Regions from separate parts of the Homo sapiens genome. Here region 1 is linked to region 2. Evidence: fine-mapped expression QTL. Tissue or cell type: liver. Region 2 holds a variant in brackets; the other region holds the start of a gene. All regions are shown on one strand. Distances are from middle to middle.

Region 1 (4,240 bases), 37 kb after region 2:
GACCAATCAGCTCTCTGTAAAACAGAGCAATCAGCTCTCTGTAAAATGAACCAATCAGCAGGATGTGGGTAGGGCCGGATAAGGGAATAAAAGCAGGCTGCCTGAGCCAGCAGCTGCAACCTGCTCTGGGTTCCCTTCCACACTGGAAGCTTTGTTCTTTTGCTCTTTGTAGTAAATCTTGCTGCTGCTCATTGTTTGGGTCTGCACTGCCTTTATGAGCTGTAACACTCACTGCAAAGGTCTGCAGCTTCACTTCTGAAGGGAGACCAGCAACCCACCAGAAGGAAGAAACTCTGAACACATCCGAACATCAAAAGGAACGAACTCTGGACACGCCGCCTTTAAGAACTGTAATACTCACTGTGAGGGTCCACGGCTTCATTCTAGAACTCAGTGAGACCAAGAACCCACCAATTCTGGACACATTGGGACTTGTTGAGATGCAGAATCTCAGGTCCCACCACAGATTCAGAACCTGCATGTTAATAAAATCTCCAAGCGACCTGTAGTTACCAATCTACTTTGCCTGGATCACTGTAGAACTGTCCTTCCCCGAAGGCAGAATCACCAACTCTGCATTCTCTAGTCAGGGGGTGGCTGCCACACTGGTTACATGTGGCAAGCCGTATTGGCATACCTCCCCCTACTCTAAATTGCCCATTTTCAACAATGATCTGAAGGAAATGTGTTTGCCCAACAGTCGCTAAAATATGGTACAAAGACAGTAGAGCCAGCATAGAGCCATAATCTGAGGGCTGGAGGGGAAGGAGTCAAGGGGATGCCTTTTATTTTTTATTTTTAAGAGAGAGCCTTGGTCTGTCGCCCAGGCTGGAGTGCAGTGGCACAATCTCGTCTTACTGCAATCTCTGCCTCCTTGGTTCAAGCAATTCCGCTGTCTCAGCCTCCTGAGGAGCTGGGATTACAGGTGTGCGCCACCACACCTGGCTAATTTTTGTATTTTTAGTAGAGATGGGGTTTCTCCATGTTGGCCAGGCTGGTTTTGAATTCCTCACCTCAGGTGATCCGCCCACCTCCGCCTCCCAAAGTGCTAGGATTACAGGCGGTGAGCCACCGCGCCTGGCCAAGGGGATGCCTTTTAAAGCCCACTCAGACCAACTTAGGGTACACTCACCAATGGGGGGAGAGGCTATTTTTCAGTGTTTCCCAGAGCTCCTCTGAGGGTCTGCTTACACAGTTCCTGGACTTGCACTCAGTAGGCAAGGTGATAAGAATAGGGGTTGTCTTTGTTTACTGTATACCGCCCACGCTTGGCACACTGGGAGCTCTGTAAATATTTCTTGACTTATTCATTGAGAGAGTTCTGCCACCTGCCCTCATGCTTCCCTTTGATTTTTCCACGCCCAATCTGGCATTTACTAGCTCAACTAACATCTATTAAGGCCTCTCTTGCCTGGCACTGCCCCGCCCATAAGCTGAAAGAGAGCACAGGAAAGGCTAGCACATGCACAGACGACTAGGCCAGGGAAGACTGCAAGGGTTTGGGCCTGGTGGAGACTGGACGGCTTCCCGGTGGTGGGGCACCCGAATTGGTTCTGAAAGGAACCAAGCAGAGGTCACCAGCAAGAGCAAAGGTGCAGAGTTGTGAAACTGCCAAGCTATTAGCAGCTTGCAGTGACGGTCTTCCAGGGACTCTGGAAGGTCTTCCACCCTTTTCCGATTGGCTGCCCTTCCTGGTTCCTCCTCAAAGCCCGCCACCTCTTTGTCTCTCCCAGAGCATGCCGGGCTGCCAGTCAGGGTCCCTTGCTCTTTTGTGTGCCCCTACTCCTCCAGGTTTCTGTGTAGCAAGTCTCCTCGGCTCACCCACCCCGCGCGCCTCCACATACGCCTTTCCTCGACCCCTCACGAGCACACGCCCGTCCCGCGTGCCCGCTCCTCTCTGCCTCCCGCCCCGATCCTACGCTCCCCCTCCTCCCTGGACCCCGCCCCCTGGAGCGCGCCCGCTTCTCTCTGCCACGCTCCCCTTCTTTCATTCCCTCTCCTCTCTGCCCGTTGCCCCCTCGTGCGCGCTCTCCCTCCTGCACACCGCCTCATCTCTGCCGCAGGCCCGACTCCTGAACGCCCCCTCCTCTCTGGCCCCCTCCCCTGGCGCGCGCCCCCTTCCGCACGACCCCTTCTCTCTGCCGGGCGCCCCGCGCCTGCACGCCCCCTCCTCTCTGCCGCGCCCCCTCTACTCTGCGGCGGGCTCCTACTCCTGCACGCCCCCTCCACTCTGCCGCGCCCCCTCTACTCTGCCGCGCCCCCTCTACTCTGCCGCCTGCTCCTACTCCTGCACGCCCTCTCCTCTCTGCTGCGCGTTCCCCCTTCGCTGCCCACCGCGTGCCCTCTGCTCACCTATCCGCGCGCCCCTTCCGCTTTGCGGCGCCTACACTGGCTCCTGAGGCGCGAGCTCTCGTTGCCTGGCAACGGGACGCCGCTCCTGGGTGGCGAGCAGGCGCGTGTGTAGGGGTGAGCGCACCGGAAAGGCCCGAACTGTTTTTGGGATTTGTTCCCCTAGCTTCGCTGGGTCCGGCGGGCAGAGGCGGTTCTGACCGTTGGGCCTTGGGCGTCGAGCAGGACTCACCTGAGGCGGAGAGAGGCCGCTTCGCGCCTGGGGCTCCCGAAAGCGGCCAGCTGTCCTCCTGCTCCCCCTGAGCGGGGAGCGCTGCGTCTCCTGCGGGCTGCGGGAGACCCTTCCAGACTCCCGGGTGGGAAAACCACACTGAGCGCCCCGGGAGGTTGCCAGATACAATACTGTATCTGGCACCCCTGCCCGGGTGCCCCCGCCCAGTTGGCTGGCTGGCTGGCTAGCTGTCTCCCAGGTGTGGGTAAGGAATCTCCTTCCATCTCTGTGGCACCTTCTTCACGCTGGAGGCAGCTGTTTCTGTGGGAAAGGGCTTTCTTATGTTGAGCCAAGATGCCTATTGGTGTATGTGAAAAATAACATTGCTTACCACAGGAGAGATGGGTATTATCCTCGTTTCACAGACAGGAACATGCTAAGGGAGTTGGCAGGCCTTGCCTGGGTCCCACTGATATGCCCAGAAATCCGAGACAGAGCCTCCCCTGACCTGGCCCCGCTGGTAGGCCAGAAGTTTTCTCTTTAGGGATAATGGTCCCCTTCCTCCCTTCCCACATTTTATCCTTCTGGAGCAGCAACAGGAGTCTGTGCACCTTTTTTTTTTTTTTTTTTTAACTTCACTTCAAATGACTTTGAGATGTCTGTGTAGCGTTTTGGTCTTTCAGGTATATCCTACTGAAGAAATACAGTGAAGATACTGTGTTCCAAAGTCAGTTGTAATAATTCTTTTCTCTGTATGGTTGAGACACCAATATCAACCTCATTTGGAATTAGGTTCATTTGTGCCAGTTTGTTTTCCGTTTTTAGAGTTTTTATGACTATGTTTACATATACACACATACACATTCCTTTCCCCACTGCTGTTGCTAATACAAAAGATGACAGACCATATACAATTTCAGCACCTCGTTTTCTTTATTCTGTGTCTTAGAGATCACTCTCTAGTTTCTTCATTCTCTTGTACATCTGCATAATAATCCATTGTGTTGCTCTTATTAATCCCCAATTTGATGAACATTTAGATGGTGCTTCAGTGTGACTATTGTAAATAATGCTGCAAATAACTGTGTGCATATGCCATTTCATATTTTTGCAACTATATCTTTGAGATAGGATCCAAGAAGCAAGATTGATGAGTCAAAGGGTGAATGCATATGTGATTTTCTAGATGTTGTCAAATTCTCCTCCATAGGAGTTATACCATTTTGCCCTCCCACCACTGTCATATGGCATATGCACATAGTTATGGCATAAAATTTCAGAGACACTGACATCCTGGGGTTCATCCATAGAATAAAAATTGGGGGTTATGGACGGACCCCAGGATGTCACTGTCTCTGAAATTTTATGCAAAATGCTAGATGCATTTGTCCAGGGACAAGTTTAGACACAGTGGCATTCTATCCCCTGTAATTGCCATGCTCATTCCTATATCAGGGCCTTTCCTCATACCTAGAAGACTCTTCTCTTCTTTGTCGTGTTAATTTTACTGTTTTTTTTTTTCAGTAAATGTAAGCTTAGCTCAAATGTCACCCCCAAAGAAGCTTTTTTTTTACTTTCCTGACTTGATCAGCTACTCCTCTTGTCTGGTCTCATAGTACTTATTTTAACTGCAATTTCATATTTATTGATTTAAATATTTATCTTCCTTTCTCATCTATA
Region 2 (4,240 bases):
CACACTTCAAATTTTTGTCTCTTTTCCTGGTGTCTCATTCAGGATAGCATGTGTCCCAGATAGAAGAGTTGGTTGGGACAATAAAAAGCATTGTTTCCCAAACCATCAATAACTTGTTTTGGATAACACCCTGCTGCCACCAGCCAGTTCTTCTGAGAGAAGACAAAAGGCTCTGACCTGCCTCCAGGCACCTTACCTGCTGTTCTCTTGCTGATGTCATAAATGATCAACAGCATCCCCTCATAGCCACATTGTCAGGACACCTAGAGAGCTGTGTGGAGCCAGAAGATACTGTTTCTGCATCCCAGGCATGTTGGTGAGCCTCAGGTGGCTGGAGTGGCCAGGGCTTCTGCAGGAAGGACCTGAGAAGTGGACATTCTCCACACTCACCTCAGCCTCAGCAGAGGGGACATCAGCTCCAAGCTTTTGCCTGGCAGGGTCTCCTGTCTTGTGATTTAGAGTTCCTGTCCCCCTGATAGTTGCCATGAAAGTGGCCCTCGTGTAGCCTGCAAAGTGACGCCTATTCTCCACCCTTGGACCTGTGGCTTCTCTTTGATTAGACACTGTGCATACTCAGGGTGGCTGGCAATGGGGATGGATCCACCCAGGGCTCCTAGTGGGGATTCTTAGGGGATACTGTGGCCCTTTTCTAGAGCACTCACATTTCATTAAGAGGCCTTCACAGGTCTCAATCTCACATACCCTCTGCTATTCAGCCACATTGCCCTTCTTACATGTTTCCAAACACCTGGATGCCTTTGCACACATGCTGTTCCTCCAGCCTAGACTGCCCTTGCTTGTGCTTTTGCGCGGTGGCTCATGCCTGTAATCCCTGCACTTTGGGAGGCTGAGGCCGGCAGATTGCCTGAGGTCAGGAGATCAAGACAAGCCTGACCAACATGGTGAAACTCTGTCTCTACTAAAAATACAAAAATTAGGCGGGCATGGTGGCAGGCGCCTGTAGTCCCAGCTACTCGGGAGGCTGAGGCAGGAGAATCACTTGAACCCTGGAGGTGGAGGTTGCAGTGAGCCAAGATGGCGCCACTGCACTCCAGCCTGGGGAACGGAGCGAGACTCGTCTCAAAAACAAAACAAAACAAACAAAACAAAACAAAAAAACTCCTCCTCATCCATCAGTGCCATGTCAAATATTATCTTTGTAAAGCCTTTCTTCACTTTCTGCCTGAGTTAGTTCACTTCTGGGCTCCCATAGTTTGGTCCTATGTCTATTAGCACACTCCCTACCTCTCTCTGCCTCCTCCCTGCACAAGGATCTCAAGGGTAGAGGCTGTGCCCTTCATATCCACACTCTCAGGCAAAGGTTTGGTGATTGGTATTGAGAAGAATGGTTTGGCTGTCCTGCCAAACCATGTCCCATGTCCTGCTCTGGGATGGACATTCAGATTGTGGAAATGAACCCAGAGAGGAAAGTTTTGATGAATCAGCCCAAGTTTTCACTACATTTTTCTTTAAAAAGGATTCTGTGATTAACTGCACCCCAATTAGCAGGCACACCTAAAATATTAATCATTTAACTATCACCCACGGCCCACTGAGTCACTGTGCTGGGAGGGGCAGGAGGCAATGATTCCAAACATGTCTGCAAGTCTGATTCTCAGCCAGACCTTTCAACCATGCTACTCAGGAGAGAAAACCAAACTTTTCTTTCAAGGGAGAATGTATGGATTTCCCCCAGGGGGACAGCACGCAGGACTGAGTTTGAAGGATGTTTTCTGCACACCTAGCATGTAATCTCTGATATTTTCCAACAAGTCAATGCATGGCTTATCCAGCAAATTACTTACATTAATAGACACCCATTATCTCTACTGAAAAGATTTCCTAGATAATGCTGTGACTGAAGTTTATAATTATACTGCAGAATGCCAGACCTCTCTGCAGGGCCCAAGTTTAGCACTGTTCTAGCTCCTTCTGGTGGTACAGCTTTAGGACTTTATTGAATGCCAAAAATCTTAGCTTTGAGTGTCTACACTTCCTAAAATGAATGCCTCCTTGCAGCATCTGAAGTGTTAATTTTAATTTGTTCATTCTTCAAGAAGATTGGTGATGTTGTTGTTTTCATTTTTTTTTTTTTTTTTTTGAGACGGAGTCTCGTTCTGTCCCAGGCTGGAGTGCAATGGCATGATCTCAACTCACTGCAACCTCTGCCTCCTGGGTTCAAGCTATTCTCCTGCCTCAGCTTCCCGAGTAGCTGGGATTTCAGGCGCCCACCACCACGCCAGCTAATTTTTGTATTTTTAGTAGAGATGAGGTTTCACCATGTTGGCCAGGCTGATCTCGAACTCCTGACCTCGTGATCCACCC[A/G]CCTCGGCCTCCCAAAGTGCTAAGATTACAGGCATGAGCCACTGTGCCCGGCCATTGTTTTTATTTTTTAGTTTAATTTTTACAATTTTTATCATTATTATTTTTTTGAGACAAAATCTCACTCTGTCACCCAGGCTGGGGTTCAGTGGTGCCATCTCAGCTCACTGCAACCTCCACCTCCCAGGTTCAAGTGACTCTCCTGGCTCAGCCTCTCCAGTAGCTGGGACTAGAGACACTTGCTACCACAGCCAGCTAGTTTTTGTATTTTTAGTAGAGACGGGGTTTTGCCATCTTGGCCAGGCTGATCTCGAATTCCTGACCTCAGGTGATCCACCTGCCTCGGCCTCCGAAAATGCTGGGATTACAGACGTGAGCCACCGTGCCCGGCCCTGTTGTTTGTAATAAGTAGTAATAAAAAGCCGGGCGAGGTGGCTCACGCCTGTAATCCCAGCACTGTGGGAGGCTGAGGCGGGCGGATCACGAGGTCAGGAGATTGAGACCATCCTGGCTAACACAGTGAAACCCCGTCTCTAGTAAAAATACGAAAAAAGAAAAAATTAGCCGGGCGTGGTGGCGGGCGCCTGTAGTCCCAGCTACTAGGGAGGCTGTAGGGCAGGAGAATGGCGTGAACCTGGGAGGAGGAGCTTGCAGTGAGCTGAGATCAGGCCACTGCACTCCAGCCTGGGCAACAGAGCGAGACTCCGTCTCAAAAAAATAATAATAATAATAAAAATAAAAATAAGTAGTACTAAAATATGCAAACAAATTCATTACATTTTAAACCTGAAAGGCCAAGTCAGATCTCGAAGAGATATTTGCATACCCATGTTCATAGCAGCATTATTCACAGTAGCCAAGAGGTGGAAGCAACTCAAGTATCTATCAACAGATGAATGGATAAACAAAATGTTACACACACACACACACACACACACACACACACACACACAAAATGGAATATTATTCAGCCTTAAAAAGGAAGGAAATTTTGACACACACTACAACATAGATGAATCATAAGAACATTATGCTAAATGAAATAAGCTCATCACAGAAAGGCAAATACTGTATGAGTCCACCTAGAGTGGAATCTTATGAGGCACCTAGAGTAGTCAAAATCAGGCCAGGTATTGGTGGCTCACACTTGTAATCCCAGTCCTTTGGGAGGCCAAGGCAGGAGAATTTCTAGAGGCCAGGAAGTTGAGACCAGCCTGGGCAATATAGTGAGACCCCATCTCTACAGATTTTTTTTTTTAAATTAGCTGGGTGTTGTGGTGCATGCCTGTAGTCCTAACTACTCAGAAGGCTGAGGTGGGAGGATAGCTTGAGCCCAGGAGTTTGAGGCTGCAGTGAACCATGATTGCGCCACTGCACTCCAGCCTGAGCAACACGGTGAGACCCTGTCTCAAAAAAAGAAAACAATCACAGAGACAGAAAATAGACAGTAGTTGCCGGGGCTGGGAGGAGGGGATAAATGGGGAATTGTTGTTTAATGAGTACAGAGTTTCGGTTTTGCAACACGAAAAACTTGGAGATGTGTTGCACAACAATGAGAACATATCTAACATTACTGAACTGTAACCATTTAAATATGATTAGGAACAATTTTATGTGTTTTTGTTTGTTTTTTTGAGACAGGGTCTCACTCTGTTGCCCAGGCTGGATGAAGGGCAGTGACATGATCATAGCTCACTGCCACCTCGACCTCCCAGGCTCAAGCTATCCTCTCACCTCTGCCTCTCTGAGTAGCTGGGACTTCAGGCATGTGCCACCACGCCCGGCTACTTTTTAAACTTTTTGCAGAGACAGGGTCTTACTATGTTGCTCAGGCTGGTCTCAAACTTCTGGACTCAAGCAATCCTTCTGCCTTGGCCTCCCAAAATGTGGGGACTACAGGAATGAGCCACTGTGCCCA

Alleles and levels. Positions count from the first base shown, and alleles are read on the strand shown. Sizes are in standard deviations (SD) of each study's normalised expression.
In carriers of allele A in region 2, the expression in liver of the gene that starts at base 2,397 in region 1 tends to be lower than with G alone (moderate effect, 0.57 SD a copy in GTEx).

What was found. PIP is the estimated chance that this variant, and not a neighbour inherited with it, causes the effect.
Region 1: it holds the start of DYDC2, and the variant in region 2 is the best candidate, but not a certain one, in a credible set for the expression of DYDC2 in liver (GTEx, PIP 0.58).

The regions. Positions count from the first base shown.
Region 1 is chr10:80,354,938-80,359,177 of GRCh38, reverse strand. DYDC2 (DPY30 domain containing 2) reads right to left here and starts at 2,397. Exons shown (of 5, transcript NM_032372.6): 1 at 2,353-2,397; 2 at 1,133-1,285. It overlaps DYDC1 (DPY30 domain containing 1), which reads left to right and starts at 2,423. Exons shown (of 7, transcript NM_001269053.2): 1 at 2,423-2,466.
Region 2 is chr10:80,392,047-80,396,286 of GRCh38, reverse strand. No RefSeq gene overlaps it. Among named protein-coding and RNA genes, the nearest start is that of PRXL2A, 14 kb to the left of the region's middle. The variant A/G (reference allele first, on the strand shown) is at 2,326.